Regions from separate parts of the Homo sapiens genome. Here region 2 is linked to region 1. A link means that fine-mapping ties the variant in region 1 to the expression of a gene that starts in the linked region. Tissue or cell type: whole blood. Region 1 holds a variant in brackets; the other region holds the start of a gene. All regions are shown on one strand. Distances are from middle to middle.

What was found. PIP is the estimated chance that this variant, and not a neighbour inherited with it, causes the effect.
Region 2: MAP2K6 starts here. The variant in region 1 is fine-mapped to the expression of MAP2K6 in whole blood (TOPMed, PIP 0.98).

The regions. Positions count from the first base shown.
Region 1 is chr17:69,497,451-69,505,558 of GRCh38, reverse strand. All of the region lies in intron 1 of MAP2K6 (mitogen-activated protein kinase kinase 6), which reads right to left. Among named protein-coding and RNA genes, the nearest start is that of MAP2K6-AS1, 16 kb to the right of the region's middle. RefSeq lists enhancers at 1,417-1,476, 1,547-1,596. The variant G/A (reference allele first, on the strand shown) is at 4,004.
Region 2 is chr17:69,410,524-69,418,631 of GRCh38, reverse strand. MAP2K6 (mitogen-activated protein kinase kinase 6) reads right to left here and starts at 3,935. Exons shown (of 12, transcript NM_002758.4): 1 at 3,632-3,935. The coding sequence starts at 3,647.

The DNA of each region.
Region 1 (8,108 bases):
TTAGTCCAGGGGGCAAACATCAGGATGAGAATGCCAACTCTCTTTTCCTAGGAAGATCTGCCCTTTCTCCCCACTGAGAATTTGTCATTGCAACTTTTTTTTTTTTTTTTTTTTTTGAGACAGAGTCTCACTCTGTCACCCAGGCTGGAGTACAGTGGCACAATCTCAGCCCACTGCAACTTCTGCCTCCTGGATTCAAGCGATTCTCCTACCTCAGCCTCCTGAGGAGCTGGGATTACAGGCATGCACCACCATGCCCGGCTAATTTTTATATTTTTAGTAGAGATGGGGGTTTCTCCCTGTTGGCCAGGCTGGTCTCGAACTCCTGACCTCAGGTGATCCGCTGACCTTGGTCTCCCAAAGTGCTGGGATTACAGGCATGAGCCACCATGCCTGGCCTTGTTTTTTGTTTTTGTTTTTTTTTTCTTTTACACTATAATGGTGATGGCAGACACTTGGTTATAGCTTTTTTTTTTTCTTTTTAGTGTTAGTAAAGGGTGGTCACCCTTATCTTAGTAACCCACTATTTTCTAAATCGATCTGTTAACTACTACAAAGTTAGCAATGGAAGTAGAATAAAAAATGCTTTTCCACTGTTCTGCCCTCCCCTTTTCCCAACCACCTGCTGTAATTTGAAAAACTTAAGAGAGGGATAGAGTAATACTTATTTACATTTTCCCTGTTCCAGAAAGGATTAAGATAACAGATGAGCTTATGCAAGGAAGTTATAACTTCTTCTTGGGCCAAATGGAAAGGTAACTTGATGTTGATCACACCTGGGCTGAAATTACAAGAGAATTTGGCTCGAATACTTTTGTTGATGAGTAAAAAAGAACAGACTGAGAAATGCCAGCTCAGGAAGCAGAACAGAGCAAACAAGGGCCTGGGGTTTTCCTCATGCATGGAGATCCTGTGTCTCTTTGCACTTGGCAGGGGAAACCAAGGGAGAGCTGCATAGAATGGCTGGAAAGAATGCTACCTTCTGCCCAGGCGCGGTGGCTCATGCCTGTAGTCCCAGCACTTTGGGAGGCCGAGACGGGCGAATCACGAGGTCAGGAGATGGAGACCATCCTGGCCGACACGGTGAAATCCTGTCTCTACTAAAAATACAATAAATTAGCCGGGCATGGTGGCAGGCACCTGTAGTCCCAGCTACAGGGGAGGCTGAGGCAGGAGAATGGCGTGAACCTGGGAGGCGGAGCTTGCAGTGAGCTGAGATCACACCACTGCACTCCAGCCTGGGCGACAGTGCAAGACTCTGTCTCAAAAAAAAAAAGAAAAAAAAAGAATCCTACCTCCTTTCCCACCTCTTCTCTACATTGCAGATGAGCACTCAGAGATAACACAAGCCCTGGATATGGCCCTGGATAGATCCTGAAGCTGCAAAGAAACTTAAACCAATTAAAATAACCTCCTTGCAGAAAAATAACATCCAAAGACTTCAGTGACTTGCTCCACATCACAGAGGTCAGCAATGACCCAGTCAGAATCAGAATCCAGGTCTCCTGACACCCAGGTGGGAGTTCTTTCTACTATCCTGCAATAGAAGACGTTTAGAGATGACTGGAGAGGGGGCAGGTGAGACGTACCCGGGATTTTGAGTTTTAAAATACCCAGCTGACATCTGGTTCTTCCACGCATCACGCAACTTCTAGAATCACTTTTCATCTGACTCTCAGTTTTCTCAATTGTAAAATGAGGAAGTAACAACCATACTCACCTCACTGGACTGATATGAGAATCAAAGCAGATAACATATATGAAAAAACATTAAGATACCTTAAGTAGCTGTTAATTAGATTCATTTAGGGAAACAATCAGTACTGTCTCATTTTTTTTAAAGTCATTTAAAAAATTAATGAAGAGAACTGGCCACATCATTATAGCCCACTATAATGTATAATGAAATTTTTCAATTCCTTCAGAATCCAAAATCAGATCAATTCTGCCAAGTTGTATATAGCCAGGAAAAAATATGCTTCGCAGTAATCAGCCTAGAGAAAGCCTTTTAGGACCACCTTCAGAATAAGAGGCTTTCTCAATTCTCTCCTCATTTGGGTTTACTTATGTATTTTATAAGGTTCAAAACTCACCATTCACTTTCCTGCTCTTGGAACTCAAACAGCTGTTAAGGATGTTACTAAATTAGTCAGTTATTGACATCGCATAGAGCTTTCCTATGTACCAGGAACTATGCTAGGTGCTGGACCCAGTTATGAGAATCCAAATAGATATATGGCCTAATTCCAACAATTCCCATCCATGCACCTCAGCCAAACAGACAGGGAATGTTACTTTCGATGAGATTCTTCAGTGAGGAATGAATGACGGATTCAACTTGTTTAGATAACTATACAGATAACTACATACAAATTCCAGTGCAGGTGACAGATAATTCAGGTAATCCCAAAAGGCGACCCTACAGTTCTCTCAACGAAAACAAAAACTAAAGTAACATATATTTTGCCTATGAAAACTGGTCTCCAGTTGTCATTTAAGCAAACCAAAAGCAGAAGTTACTCTTAAATTCCTACATCTTTCTCTTCTTTACCTCTAACTCAGTTCTTACAAGATAGATGTAAAGAGAAATAGCTATTTATTGAGAAAACCCCTTTGGAAAACTTTAATATAGCAAGTAATTAGTAGCAATTCTTAACAGCAATTAATTATTACACCATAACTTAAATCACCAAAACATCTATACAAAGAAACAGTAAAAAAGAGAGAAAGTTTTTAGCACAGAGACCAAAGGAATAAAAGACCAAAATAATAGTAAAGTCTTCCAAGTGGGAGGAGAAGGCCTTTGATTCTCTCCCCAGATCACTGTTACACCCAGCCACCCCCACAGCCCCCCACATCAACATCATTCTTACCCTGAATTTACTGCCTCCTAGTTGAAATTGCCAGCCTCCTGTCTCCAGACTCTAAACCCTTGACTATGTATATAAGTTGGACATCTGCATATCTTAAACCTAATATTTCCAAGTATATCAGCTCCTCAGAACAACAAGAAAAAAAAATAGATCCAGGAGACACAAAACCTAGTTGAATTACAGTGTTAGAAAATACTCTGCCTTCACGTTTACATCAAATAAAATACAAATCACAAGCACACACAGCAACACTCTGCAGTTCGCTTACTTGCCCATCTCTGACAGAGCAGCACAGTAAGAGACCAGCAGAGGCGACTCTGGTGAGGTTTTCGAGGCTGCAAGGAAGACCAGCAGAGGAAAACCTAACAGAAGTCATTCTTCACTTAGCTCCAAAGACCACACTTCGGCAAGGAGAAACAGAACTGAACAGACTCCACCCCCTCCTCAAGTTCGGATTGCAGCAAACCTCTGCAAGCTCATTGTTCCGAGGAAATTGCAGCTTCAGGAAGGGAGAAGGGAAGTGGGTCTATGTGGACACCCAGGCGTGACATTAATCATTAACCAGACTTGGAGGAATAAATCTATAAATCTGGACAGTACCATGTTCTGCAGCTTTTCTATAAATGCCTCTTTGATTTCTTAAAAGAAAGAAAAACAATATGTGGTCAGTTTCCAGCTGTGTTTACTTCACAGCAATCTGTTCCCCCAGGAAGGCAGCCAACACCTGACGCTAACATTGAACACTGTTAAAAAAAAAAAAAAAAAAACATGGGAGGGAGCACTATGAATAATAAAGCTAAGTGGCCAACTATGTTCAACAGTCTTTGCCTTTGATATTCTAAAGCAAAGCAGAAAAAATGTCAGAAAAAAAAAAAGGCTTTCTATGATGTCATATGCTAGCAACAAGCCTTCTCGGAAACAGAGAATTCTGTAGATTTCTGCAGATCGCAACAAGCCTCGACTGCTTATTGGCACAGTCTGCAAAGGGTAAGCCTCGTCGGCCTGATTGGGCATATGCAGCACTATATTGCATCAGACCCTGTTACCCGCATGACTGTGTTCTCTGAAAATAGTGTAATCCCACCACACACATATATTTGCAAAATTCATCTGAAACCAAAGCAAAGCTG[G/A]GTCATTATAATCCTGGCCTGGAGCAAAATGGCACTGGAAAAAAAAATTTAAAAAGCCTTGCCAATAGTTAGAAAATATTTACCAGGCCACAGAAATGTTCGCTAGCTTTGACTGCACCGAAAATGATGGGGTACACGAGAGGTCTTGCACACACTCTGAGAGGGTAAGCACAAAGCACTCCTCTGATGTTCCTCATTACATAAAACAGAAGATTATGTTCCACTGCCAACCCAAACAGCATGAGAAGCCCACGCGGTCAACAGAAGGTGGCATCGTGAAGATATGCTGATGCCTAAATATTTGTTAGCTTGGCCGAGGGTTGGGGGCACGACTATGAGAGTTTATGATTATTGACACAGCTTCACAAAAGGATGGCAGTGTTTCCAGTGCCAAATTTATTTTAAAAATCTGTTTCCCAATATGAATGGGATTTCCAGCCAAGTAACTGGCAATCTAGAGGCCTTGGCTGCCCTCTCCTTACTACTTGCATCTAGGCTTACGTTCCAAGGGTAGTTGGCAATAAAACCAGCAGTGAAGTATCATTCAGTGTTATTAAATTGCAATCATCATATGCAAAGCAACGAACGAAGCAGGGCAGGGGAAGAGGCATGCAGGAAGAAAGCTGGCTTTGCAACAGCAATGTAAAAGTGAACAGGGACTCTGCCATCCTCCAATCTTCCAAAACCACTGGCTCTTATATACCACTGAGATTCCAAACACTGAAGACAAATCTCTCTGGAATTACAGAAAGTTTAGAGAAGAAAAGCTGAAAACCTCTTTTTTTTTTTCTTTTTTTTTTGAGATGGAATCTTGCTCTGTCACCCAGCCTGGAGTACAGTGGCACAATGTCAGCTCACTGCAACCTCCGCCTCCCGGCTTTGTGTGATTCTCCTGCCTCAGCCTCCTGAGTAGCTGGGATTACAGGTGCCCGCCATCACGCCCAACTAATTGTTGTATTTTTTAGTACAGATGGGGTTTCACCATGTTGGTCAGGCTGGTCTTGAACTCCTGACCTCGTGATCCACCTGCCTCAGCCTCCCAAAGTGCTGGGATTATAGGCGTGAGCCACCATGGCCGGCCTTTTTTTTTTTTTTTTTTTTTTTTTTTGAGACAGAGTCTCACTTTGTCACCCAGGCTGGAGTGCAGTGGTCCTATCTAGGCTCACCGAAACCTCTGCTTCCCACGTTCAAGCAATTCTCATGGCCCTCAGCCTCCCGAGTAGCTGCGACTGGGAATACAGGCACGTGCCACCCCACCCGCCTAATTTTTGTATTTTTAGTAGAGATGGGGTTTCGCCATGTTGACCAGGCTAATCTCAAACTTCTGACCTCAGGTTATCCGCCCGCCTTAGCCTCCCAAAGTGCTGTTACTGGGATTACAGGTGTGAGCCACTGTGCCCAGCTGAAAAGCTCATTTTAAAACCTGCAGTCAGTTTGATTTCAGAGTCAGAATGAATCTCCTAAGACCTTACCTTTGCTCATACTGTTCCTTCTACCTGGAGGGCTCTAGCTGTCTTGCAGACAAGAACTCAACCTTCCAAATTCAAAACCTCCCTCATAGAACCTTCCCAGAGCTTCCTGAACACAATCTAAGGATTACTATCCACACATTCCTGCTTTCACATTCTGGCACCTTACACTCAGCCTGCAACACAATATGAGCTCAAAGCAGCTTCCCTGAAACTTTGATATTTTAGTTGAAAAATGTCCACTCTCTCTACAATAGATCTCCACGACCATCTTCCACTCATTTCCCGCAAACCTTTTCTCACAATCTAGAATTATTTTATTTTTGTATTTATTTATTTACTTCTGCATTTATTTATTACTTGTTTATCTACCTTTCTCCACTAGAATATAAGTTCCATGATGGCCAATGATTTTGCCCAGCACCTGCACATCATAAATATTTGTTGACTGAATGTTTGTTATTCTTTTCTCAACTGTTTTGAACATTTGTACAGAGCTCTTCAAAAAACAAACAAACAAAATGAACAACCAAGAATGGAATGGAAATTGCACAAACCTCTGCATCAATAAGAATCATTTCAAATCCCAGCTGTCCCACTTAGTGACGTAATGTTGAGAAAGTTTCTTATCTTAAACTGAGTTTCCACACCTGCAAACTGGAGATGATGTACAATCTCCGCAGGTCATTAAGAGACTCGATTGACACAGTGTGTGTGAAGAAGCCTAGCAGGGTGTAGCATAATATAGGTGCTCAATAAATACTTCCTTTTGTCCCTTCCATGTTTACGCTTACATTTTTAAAATATGAGTTAAGCAGAATGTTCCCTGGATGGCATCTTATTTCTTCAAATTCCGTGCTCCATTCTCCCTCTTTCGTGTTATTTACACTAGAATTACATTTTTCAAACATCTCATCAATCTTGAATCTACCTCTCTTTGTGCCCACTGACTATGGGAACTTCTCCAGGTCTATAGACTCAGGATTTCTGGGACTGAGTGTAGTGAGTGCTTATAATTTTACATTGCCTCAGTATCCATTTTTAAACCTAAGTTAAACTATCTCACATCAGAAGCAGGGCTCAGTCACTCTTAACACGGTGTCTAATACCACACTCCACCAGATTGGCTCCAAACCAGTGGCCAGACATGAAACTTAGAGACATCTCTCCTGCCTAGCAGGCTGGCCTCCCTACTTTCCTGCCACTCCCTTTAAACAGACCATGCAGACATTTGCCCACAAACGTAAGGTGACCACCTCTCAGTCACGCTGTGACCTCCTAGAACTAGTGCCTGCTTGCTTTAAACCCAGCAATTAAAGCTCCCTGCAGGAAACTGGATAACGCCCTGTACCCAATAAAGACATTGGCTCAGTGGTCCCTTCTCTCTCTCTCTGCGTGCACGTGTGTGTGTGTGTGTGTGTGTGTGTGTGTGTGTGGCTTCCAGGTGTGTGTGTGTGGCTTCCAGGCGTGCTGGGTGCCATACAGAGTCTCTAAGTGCTAAAAAGTCTTAAAATCTCACATTGTAGTTGTGTCACTGAAGCCACACTTGCAATCCTATCCCTATGGGTGAAACTGCCCCAAAAGGACCCATGCAGGTGGGTCCCCTGCTGATGCCCTTTTGTCCAGGTCTCTCAGCTACTGGGGACAGTAGTTACCAGCTAAGTTGATAGAGTGAGGCTTCAGGATCCATATATTTTTTTAAGTTTCACAAGTGTCTGAGAAATCAGCCACAGTTAAGTAGCCCTTGTCTACCACATGTCTATGTAAAGTTGTTTTGTGTTTGTTTGTTTGTTTGTTTGTCTTGTTTTACCATTTCTCACTTTATGTTGCCAACGTCACTTTCCTCCAAGGCTCTTGTCACATCCCCCACAACCCACCAGTTCTTTCTGATTAGTAAGAATTAAATTCCAAGCTAGCTCCTCACTGTGTTATCTCTATCTTTGAGCTGAAATTGTCAATCATTCCCCAGGGTACACATTGCAAGGGTCAAAACTTATTAAGATGCAATTCTGCCATCGAAGCATCAGGAGATATGAAAACCCAACTCCATAATAACAGCGGGTATGTGTGATGTGCAATACAAGCATTGCACCCTGAAAGCAGGAGAGAAGAAGCAAGACAAGCAACACTGAGAAATGGTCTCACATACGAAGTGGTATTTGAAGTGGCCCTTTGATTTTGGTAGGATTTAAGGGTACCTGAGGGTTTGTTATACTGTATGTCTTCTTTATATATTTAAATATTTCCAAAATCAAAGTTTAAAAAGACCATGGGTGGGATTTTGACAATCAAGACTTGGAGAGACAATAAGGGGATTCAAAGTAAAATGAGGATGAAATATCTTTGTAAGGAGAAGCACTGTGGTATATTCAAAGAATTCTGAGTTTTCTACTCTGGACAAACTGAAAAGTGGTGGAGAGAGAAACCTGGAGGAGGAAGTTGGAGTCAGAGATCAAAATACTGTAACAAATATATTTTAAATTTCAGATGTAAAAAGAGAAGTCATGTATGTTTTTCAGTAGAGGAACATCATGCCACATCCATGCTTCAGAAAAAAAAAAAGATGTAACAAGATGAACTGATCTAATAATATCAGGATGTTTTGAAACTGTGCTACACACACACTCATGCATAAA
Region 2 (8,108 bases), 87 kb after region 1:
GGAATATTTTGCCATATATTGGTAAGTGAAACAAGAGGGAACGAAATAGACTTAGTTTTACACACATTTTGGATGCTTCATACACATAGATAGAAAAAAAAAGTCCAAGAGAATAAATGCCAAAGTGTAGACTGCAGTAACTAGTCATTCTTATTTTTCCTTTTCTATGAAATGTTTCTATAATGAACAAGGGTTATTTATGAAATTTCTTTTAAGTTTTAAAAATATTCCTTGTAGATCTTTCAGATTTTAAAATACTGGGGAGTCATTAAAGTAACACTAATCTGAAAAACAAAGACAAGAGAATCTCAACTCTTTTCTCCAACATTAAATTTACCAACCAGAGACCCCTGAAGCCCCCTACAGTTAACAGGCCGCATGCTCTAAAGAACTGAATGCAATGCTAATACAAAGCAAGCTCAGGAAACCCAAGCTACCTATTCTGATTTTGTGTCCTGAGATGTACGGGGTTATAAAACATACTGGCTCAGATTACAGGCTAAGCATGACAAGTCCGTCTGGTACAACCTAACAAAGGAATTTATAGAGAACAAGAAATTTACACATTTCATTTCCCAAGGGTGGAATGAATTACAGAAGCAAAGAACCCCAGTAGAGTTAAGACCTTTCCTACCACTCTGCTATATGCTTCTGAATTGTGCCTCATAGGCATTTCTTACATGATTTACTTATTGCTCTCTAAAACTAAAATAAACTAATATTTTTTAAAGGTGAATAGGAGGAGAAGTGAGAAAAGTGTATTTTAACAGGGTCAAACTTTTTGTGTATTTTCAGGTGAACTGGGGGATGCCAGATCTCCCTACCTCCCTCTTTCTCTCCCTCCCTCCGGAGATCATTATGGCTGATAACAATAGTTTTTCTCTCCCGGGTAGTGTAGATGACACATTTTTCCTGTAGCTTGTCTTCCTGTAGTGTGCAGGAATTCCTGCACTTTCTGGGTGCCCTTCCTGTTAACTTACATTTCAGATTTCCTCAAAAGGCATTCTACTGCTTTAATATTTGAAAAATGTCAACTCAACCCCAGACAGCTAATATAAACAAGCTGAAAAGCATACCACCTAAAGTTACAACTGTGGAAAACAAAATTTCTTTTTAAGAAATTCTTTCTCGGAATCTCACTGTTGGTAAGGCTGTAGAGCAGTAACCCAGTCCTTCCAGCTTCCAGAGAGTCTGTAATTCCTTTGCCTCTGCTGTGCCTTAAATTAGAGGTCTGTTAAACCGAATTATAGTGATCTAGAAAGTTCGTAAAGGTCCTTGAATTGAACATATTGTTAAATTCTTCAATACTATGAGATTGTATCCACTTTTCACTTTTCCTCCCATTTCTTGGGTTAGAATATTAAAAAAGAAGTTTGGTACTGCAAAAAGTATTTTGGCCATTTGAGAATAGCGTAGCTGAATAAGGCCAATTCCACATTTAAAGTCCAGGCCAAGGCGGCTGGCTCTTTTGCCATTTCTAAAATGATCACCCACTTCTTTCTACCAATAATTTTCCTTTCGGACAAGAACCCCATGTTCATTCCAGATGTACTTTCCAAGCAGAATCCAATTAAGAAAACTCATCTGGGTAAATGGGAATTGATTTGAAGGACCACCAGTACCTGATCCATTGTAAACACATCCATAGGGAAGAGTGCAGTGCTAATATCTCCTTTGGCTTCTCAACTCAAAAACTGGCTCTACTAAGAGGGAGCCACGTTCATAGTGAGCCCAAAAATATGCAAAAAGGAGCCTGATTTAGTTTAGACCCTAAAGTCCAAAGATAAGATCACAGTAAACACCACCCTCTTCATAAACCTTCCTGACTATCCCCCAAATAGATAAATCACTTCCATTTTTAAACTCCAATAGCACCATTTCTCTTCAATACCTGTCCTATTATCTTGTATTATAATGATTTCCTTACATTCTTGTTTTCACCAACCCGAAGGAAAAACTTCATTTTAAATATTTTTGTGTGTCCCTAAATCATGTGCACACATACACACACAATACATACATATACATGCATATATATACACACATACATATGTATATACATGCATATCACAATATATTACACATATATTAAACTGAATTGAATGAATGAGCGAATGTTTACCAAATACAAAGTAACTAAATGCCATCTCTTTAATACATCAAAGCATGGACTGCCTCTTCTGAACTATTATTTCTCTACTCAATAAGGAGATTTTTAGGTTTTCCCCACTTGAGGAACATCTCCACCTGATATGTCAATTCCTAGGTTCTTCAGCACTCTTAACTTTTCAGATTTCCATTCTCCCCTAATACTCAAAGAAAAGCAGAGTGCTACTTTGAATGCTTGAGATTACTACTTCCTTCTTGGGCTGCTGAGATATATGACTCCCATCAGGTAGAATTAAAAAGCGGTGCAACAACTCCCCACACTCCCTCCCAAAAAAGTAGCAAAAAGCTTGTTAGACCCTTTAATTTCACCATGTCTTACTCAAAGAGTGCCCCGGGTAGCCTAATTCAATAGTATCTAACACCTCTCTTCATCATCCCATACTTCTCATATGGCATATGCTTTCTCTATGGTAAAGAAACAATTGTTCTGAAACAAGTGACTTGGGGTCCCAGGGGCACCTGACAGCACCTAGTCTGCTCTTTGATGTCATATCAGGAATTTTTTAAATCCCCTTCCCAGGGTGACATTAAGCCTGCAAAATACAACTGTGTTTAAAAACAAAAATTAAGAAAAGAAAATAAAAGAACATAAAGAAAACAACCATAACGTGAACTTCCAACCTATTACAGCTGACTAAATACACGCAGTTACACACTTAAAATATTTCATTATGCTTGTCAATGAAACAGTGCAGTCCCTTCACACTACTGTAATGCTTAAAAGTACAGTTTTACCCCCAATATTTTCCCCCAAGATGCAAAGCATCCCCCAAATGGGCAGACATAAAACATTAGGTCTTCACTGCTGCTTCTAAATTTTGCGAGCCAATAAGCAATTGGTGTAAAGTGCAAAATCTCAGAAGAGCAAGACTCGTCTGCTTTTTTGTGATATGCTGTTATTCACCCTTCACCTTTACTTCCTTTAAAAATCAAAAGTTACCTAATGTTCAAGGCGATATCAATGGAAATTTAGCTAAATACTGGCACCGCAACGGTCTATTTCCCCCAAAGAATATAAGATTACATTAATTTCCTAGTAGTTTAACTCAAGTTTTACCTTTCATCTTCACCTATAGAGTTTTTAAAAGTTTCTATTCCTGTTGCATACAAAATTACTTACAATATCTGTGCATAGTAAAGAATTTTACAATTATATAAAGCCTTGCACATTTAGACGCTACCAACCTGCTCTGTCTCTCCTGACTGTGCAAAAGGCAAAAAGAGCTCAGTAATCCTAGCAGAAGAATGCAAATAACGTCAATGCACAGCTGAACTGCAAGCCCTGCCTTACAGGAACTCTCTGTGTCTGCAAAAAAAGACACATACTAAACAGGAAATGCAACTGAGCTGTGGAAAACCTCAAACTTAAAAATGCACTCGCCAGGCGAAAATTGCATCCATGCATTCATAAATGCATGCACAACCCTTTGCATTTTTGCAACTAATGCAAACAGCCTCTTACCTTTCGACTGAGACATTTTCCCCTTTCCTTTGATGGGGGAGGGGAGCACAAAAGACTTTGCCTTGCTTCTCTTCTGTAGCTAGTTTTGCAACAAAGATGCAAGCTGCAGGCGTGCAATCTTCATGCAAGTGGAGTTTCTCTTGACCGATGCAGCAGATGGACTTTCAGGGAATCAAGATGGAAATGCACACCTTGCAAAACAGACTGGAAAGTGATTTTTCCCCCAGTTGCAACGTTAGGGAAGGCTGTGCTGCAGCTACATGATGGGCCAGGGCTGGCAGCTAAAAGCTCCAAACTTGGAACTGAGTATCTTAGTGCGCAGACGTCCTTCCTGCGAAGGGCGCGAAGGCCGCTGGGTAATGTAGTTCTCCGGCGGAGTCCACGGGGCTCTGATTTAAGGAAACGTGGTCGCCCCGGTCGCTGAGCGAGATAACTGGGTGCGACAAAGATTGCGTCCAGATAAACAAGTCAGACACACACTCAGTAGAGTGATGGGTGAAAAGCGGCAAGGCCAAGACGGGGCGGCAGTTTTGTTCTCGAAAAGCCTCTGAAACAACAGCTAAAGAATATTAGGTTAGCTAAAGAGCTTTTGGCTTGTCGAGAAGGTCTGTTTGGGAGTTTAGTGTGTTGATTTTGCAGCTCAGCACCTGTTGTGCTGTTCTTGCCTGTAGACGTTTTACCCTCACACCTCCGTTTTTTGTTTGTTTGGGGGTTTTTTTGTTGTTGTTGTTGTTGTTTTTTTCCCGAGAGGGAGTCTCGCTCTGTCGCCCAGGCTGGAGTGCAGTGGCGCGATCTCTGCTCACTGCAACCTCCGCCTCCCGGGTTCAAGCAATTCTCCTGCCTTAGCCTCCCAAGTAGCTGGGATTACAGGTATGCGCCACCACGCCCGGCTAATTTTTAGTAGAGACGGGGTGTCAACATTTAGCCAGGCTGGTCTCGAACTCCTGACCTTATGATCCGCCCACCTCGGCCTCCCAAAGTGCTGGGATTACAGGCGTGAGCCACCGCGCCCGGCCACACCTCCATTTTTAAAAACATTTTTTCTAGTAAGAAAAATGTATGGATGATTGGGTTGGCTGGAGGTAAGGTTACCTTTGCTCTGTGGAGAAGATGCAAAGTTTTATTTTGTCAGAAACAATCCAGGTCAGTTATTTCCAAGGAACCCGAAACTCAGTAGGGGGTAGGTGTGGGGAAGAAGATTGGAGGCTTCTCATTTCTCACAGGGTTACAGAGGAAGTTCTGCTTTTTATACATCAACGCTAACTTTATCAAAATTAAGGTATCTAGATGATTTTTTCTCACCTGGGAGGAGAGTCCCTGGCCTAGGGGGAAAGTGGGTGGAAAATGAATACAGTCGAATATCTTGAATTTATTCATTAAAATTAAAAGATACTTGTTGAGTGTCCAGGATGTGCCAGGCGCCTTTCTAGGGCCCTGGGATGTTCATTCATTCTGTACCGCTCACACATAGTGGGTACACAGCACCCTGATGGAGAACGGCATCACCTTTTTCACAAGGAAGCCAGAGATGCTTAGCACAATTCACTGCAAGGAATGGAGAGGAGTGAGCAGGGCATGGGCAAAAATGAGCTCGGACTTATACTTCATGGAGCAGACAGACTCAGAAATGTTCTTTTAAGACAGAGGGAGGAATTGAGGAATTCAAGGAGGTGTGGACAAAGCACTGTGGCAGAAATAAGGACAACCTTACTCAGAAGCTGCCAAGGAGACCTTGTTGCCTTGTGTGCAGGAGTGGTGAGGGCGGGGGAGATTTACAGGTGAGGACTCCACAGGGCCTTAAAAGGTGGGCTAGAGGTTTGGACTTTATTCTGCAGGTACTTGCGGGGAGGTGAAAGGGTCTTGCAAAGGGGCGTAACTTAATCCAAGCATTGTTTTAAGAAAGTAAATTTGCCCTCAGCAATCAAGGTGGGTTGGAACTGGGAGAGGCTAGAGATAGGTTAGGTCAGTAGTGAAAGGCAAAAAGAGGCACTTTGAAAGAAGATTCAGCTAGATTTGATGATTACTAATGAAAACTATTGGAATTGTATTTAGGATGCTGGAAGCCAGGACCATCTGCATAAGGGATGCATTAGAGGGAAGGAAGCCGTCTTATTTCAGCTGCAAACCAGCAAATCAAATCTTAAATATGCAATAGGTTGTGAGACTAACATTAATTTACTTAAGTTGGTCCCCTTTACTGACATTCTTGACAATTAGTGAAGGCAATCTAATCTCCATATTAGCTTCTGCCCCTAAGAGGAAGGCATTGCTGGTCTGTGAACACAGGTGCAAGGACTTTCTAACTCTTTTATTGTCCTTCTAGGCTAATCCATGTTGTCCCTTCCCTCCTATCGTATACACACAAGCTCAGCACCCCCTCAAACCAGCATGGTTTCCTAAGTCTCATTTAACCAGGAGACACGTGTGAAAATCTAGTTCACTTTCCCAAACACTGATGGAGCCAGGCCCTGGGATAGCTGCTGGAGCTTTCTGTAAACTGGCTTAGCCCAGGCAGGGCCTGAACAGCCACCTAGAGCTTGCTTCAATTTGCATTTTATGTGGTCAGCTGCATTGCTCTTAAGTAGCCCCAGACTCCCTTCTTTATGGAAGAGTTCTAATCACAACTTGTCTGGTGCATTTTGCCACTGTCATTACTGCTCTTACTTTCTCTGCATAGGCGTGCGGAGTCCACAGCTGGCAAATGGATTGTAGCTTGAAAGTCAATCTGCAATTCATTTTCCCATAGCACCAACAATATGTTCAGCAGCTAATATACACACACAAGCACACATGCATACACAAAACACCTCTCATCCATAAATTGGCTGAATCATCCGTTTAAAAATAGCAAAATTTTGTATCATATTTCTTTCTGGGAAAAATGTATCCTGAATTTCAAGTAGGAAATTGGGATGACAGGGAACTCAACCTCTCTGTGAAGTCTTGGTTCCCAGAAGAAAAAGTTCTTCTTCCTGCCTTGGTGTTCAAAAGTTTCCTCTCCCACATACGTGGGTGGTGGAAGAGGAGGTACCTGTGCTCTTCTTCCTGCCAGTCTTCGTGGTATCATTGGTACTAGGAGGAGAATCCTCCCCATTGTGGCGTAAGAAGGCAGGAGTGAATTCTGGCAGGTGTCTCCTTTTATATGCACATCAAGTGTTCATCTTCAGGTGGCCCATGCTTCTGTTTTAAATCCCCCATCTTTTTTTTTTTTTTTTTTTTTTTTTTTTTTGAGATGAGTCCTCGCTCTGTCACCCAGGCTGTAGTGCAGTGGCGCAATCTCGGCTCCCTGCAACCTCCACCCCTCAGGTTCAAGCGATTCTCCTGCCTTAGCCTCCCGAATGGCTGATGTTACAGGAGCTCACCACAACACCCAGCTAATTTTTGCATTTGTAATAGAGACAGTGTTTCACCGTGTTGGTCAGGGGGTCTCAAACTCCTGACCCCAAGTGATCCACCCACCTTGGCTTTGCAAAGTGTTGGGATTACAGACGTGAACCACCGCGCCTGGCCTCCCCCATCTTTTTAATTGTTTGTTTGTTTTTATTTTTTTTTTTAATTTTTTGAGACAGAGTCTCACTCTGTCGCCCAGCCTGGAGTGCAGTGTCATGATCTCAGCTCACTGCAGCCTCCACCTCCCAGATTCTCCCACCTCAACCTCCAGAGTAGCAGGGATTATAGGTGCATGCCACCAAGCCCAGCTATGTTTGTTTGTTTGTTTTTAGGGACAAGGGTCTTGCTTTGTCTTCCAAGCTGGAGTGCAGTGGCCTGATCATATAGGTCACTGTAGCCTCAAACTCCTGGGCTCAAGAGATCCTCCCACCTCAGTCTCCCAAGTAGCTGGGACTGCAAGCGTGAGCTACCATGCCCAGCTAATTTTTGTTATTTTTTATTGTAGAGACAGAGTTGCTGCGTTGCCCAGGCTGGTCTCAAAGTCCTGGCTTCAAGCAATCCTTCTGCCTCAGCCTCCAAAAGTGCTGGGATTACAGGCACCAATCTTTGTAATTTTCTGTACTTCAGATCTTTCTAAAATGCAAGTCAGATGCACTCTCCTCTCAGTTTCTAAATATACTCAGGATCTATTCCAAACTCCATGGCATGGTATAATTGGTTCCTCAAGACCTGGGCCCTGCTTTATCTCCAGCTTCATTTCTCATCGTATGTTGACATTAGAGTCAGGAGAAGGCAGCTTTTCTCACTCCTTGCCATTAGGTACATGCTCTCATGCTCGCTCTCTCTCTCTTTTTTTTTTTTTTTTTTTTTGAGACAGTCTTGCTCTGTTGCAATGGCATGATCTTTGCTCACTGCAACCTCCACCTCCCAGGTTCAAGCAATTCTCCTGCCTCAACCTCCTGAGTAGCTGGGATTACAGGTGTGCACCACCACATCCAGCTAATTTTTGTATTTTTAGTAGAGAAAGGGTTTCACCATGTTGGCCAGGCTGGTCTTTAACTCCTGACCTCAAGTGATCCACCCCCCT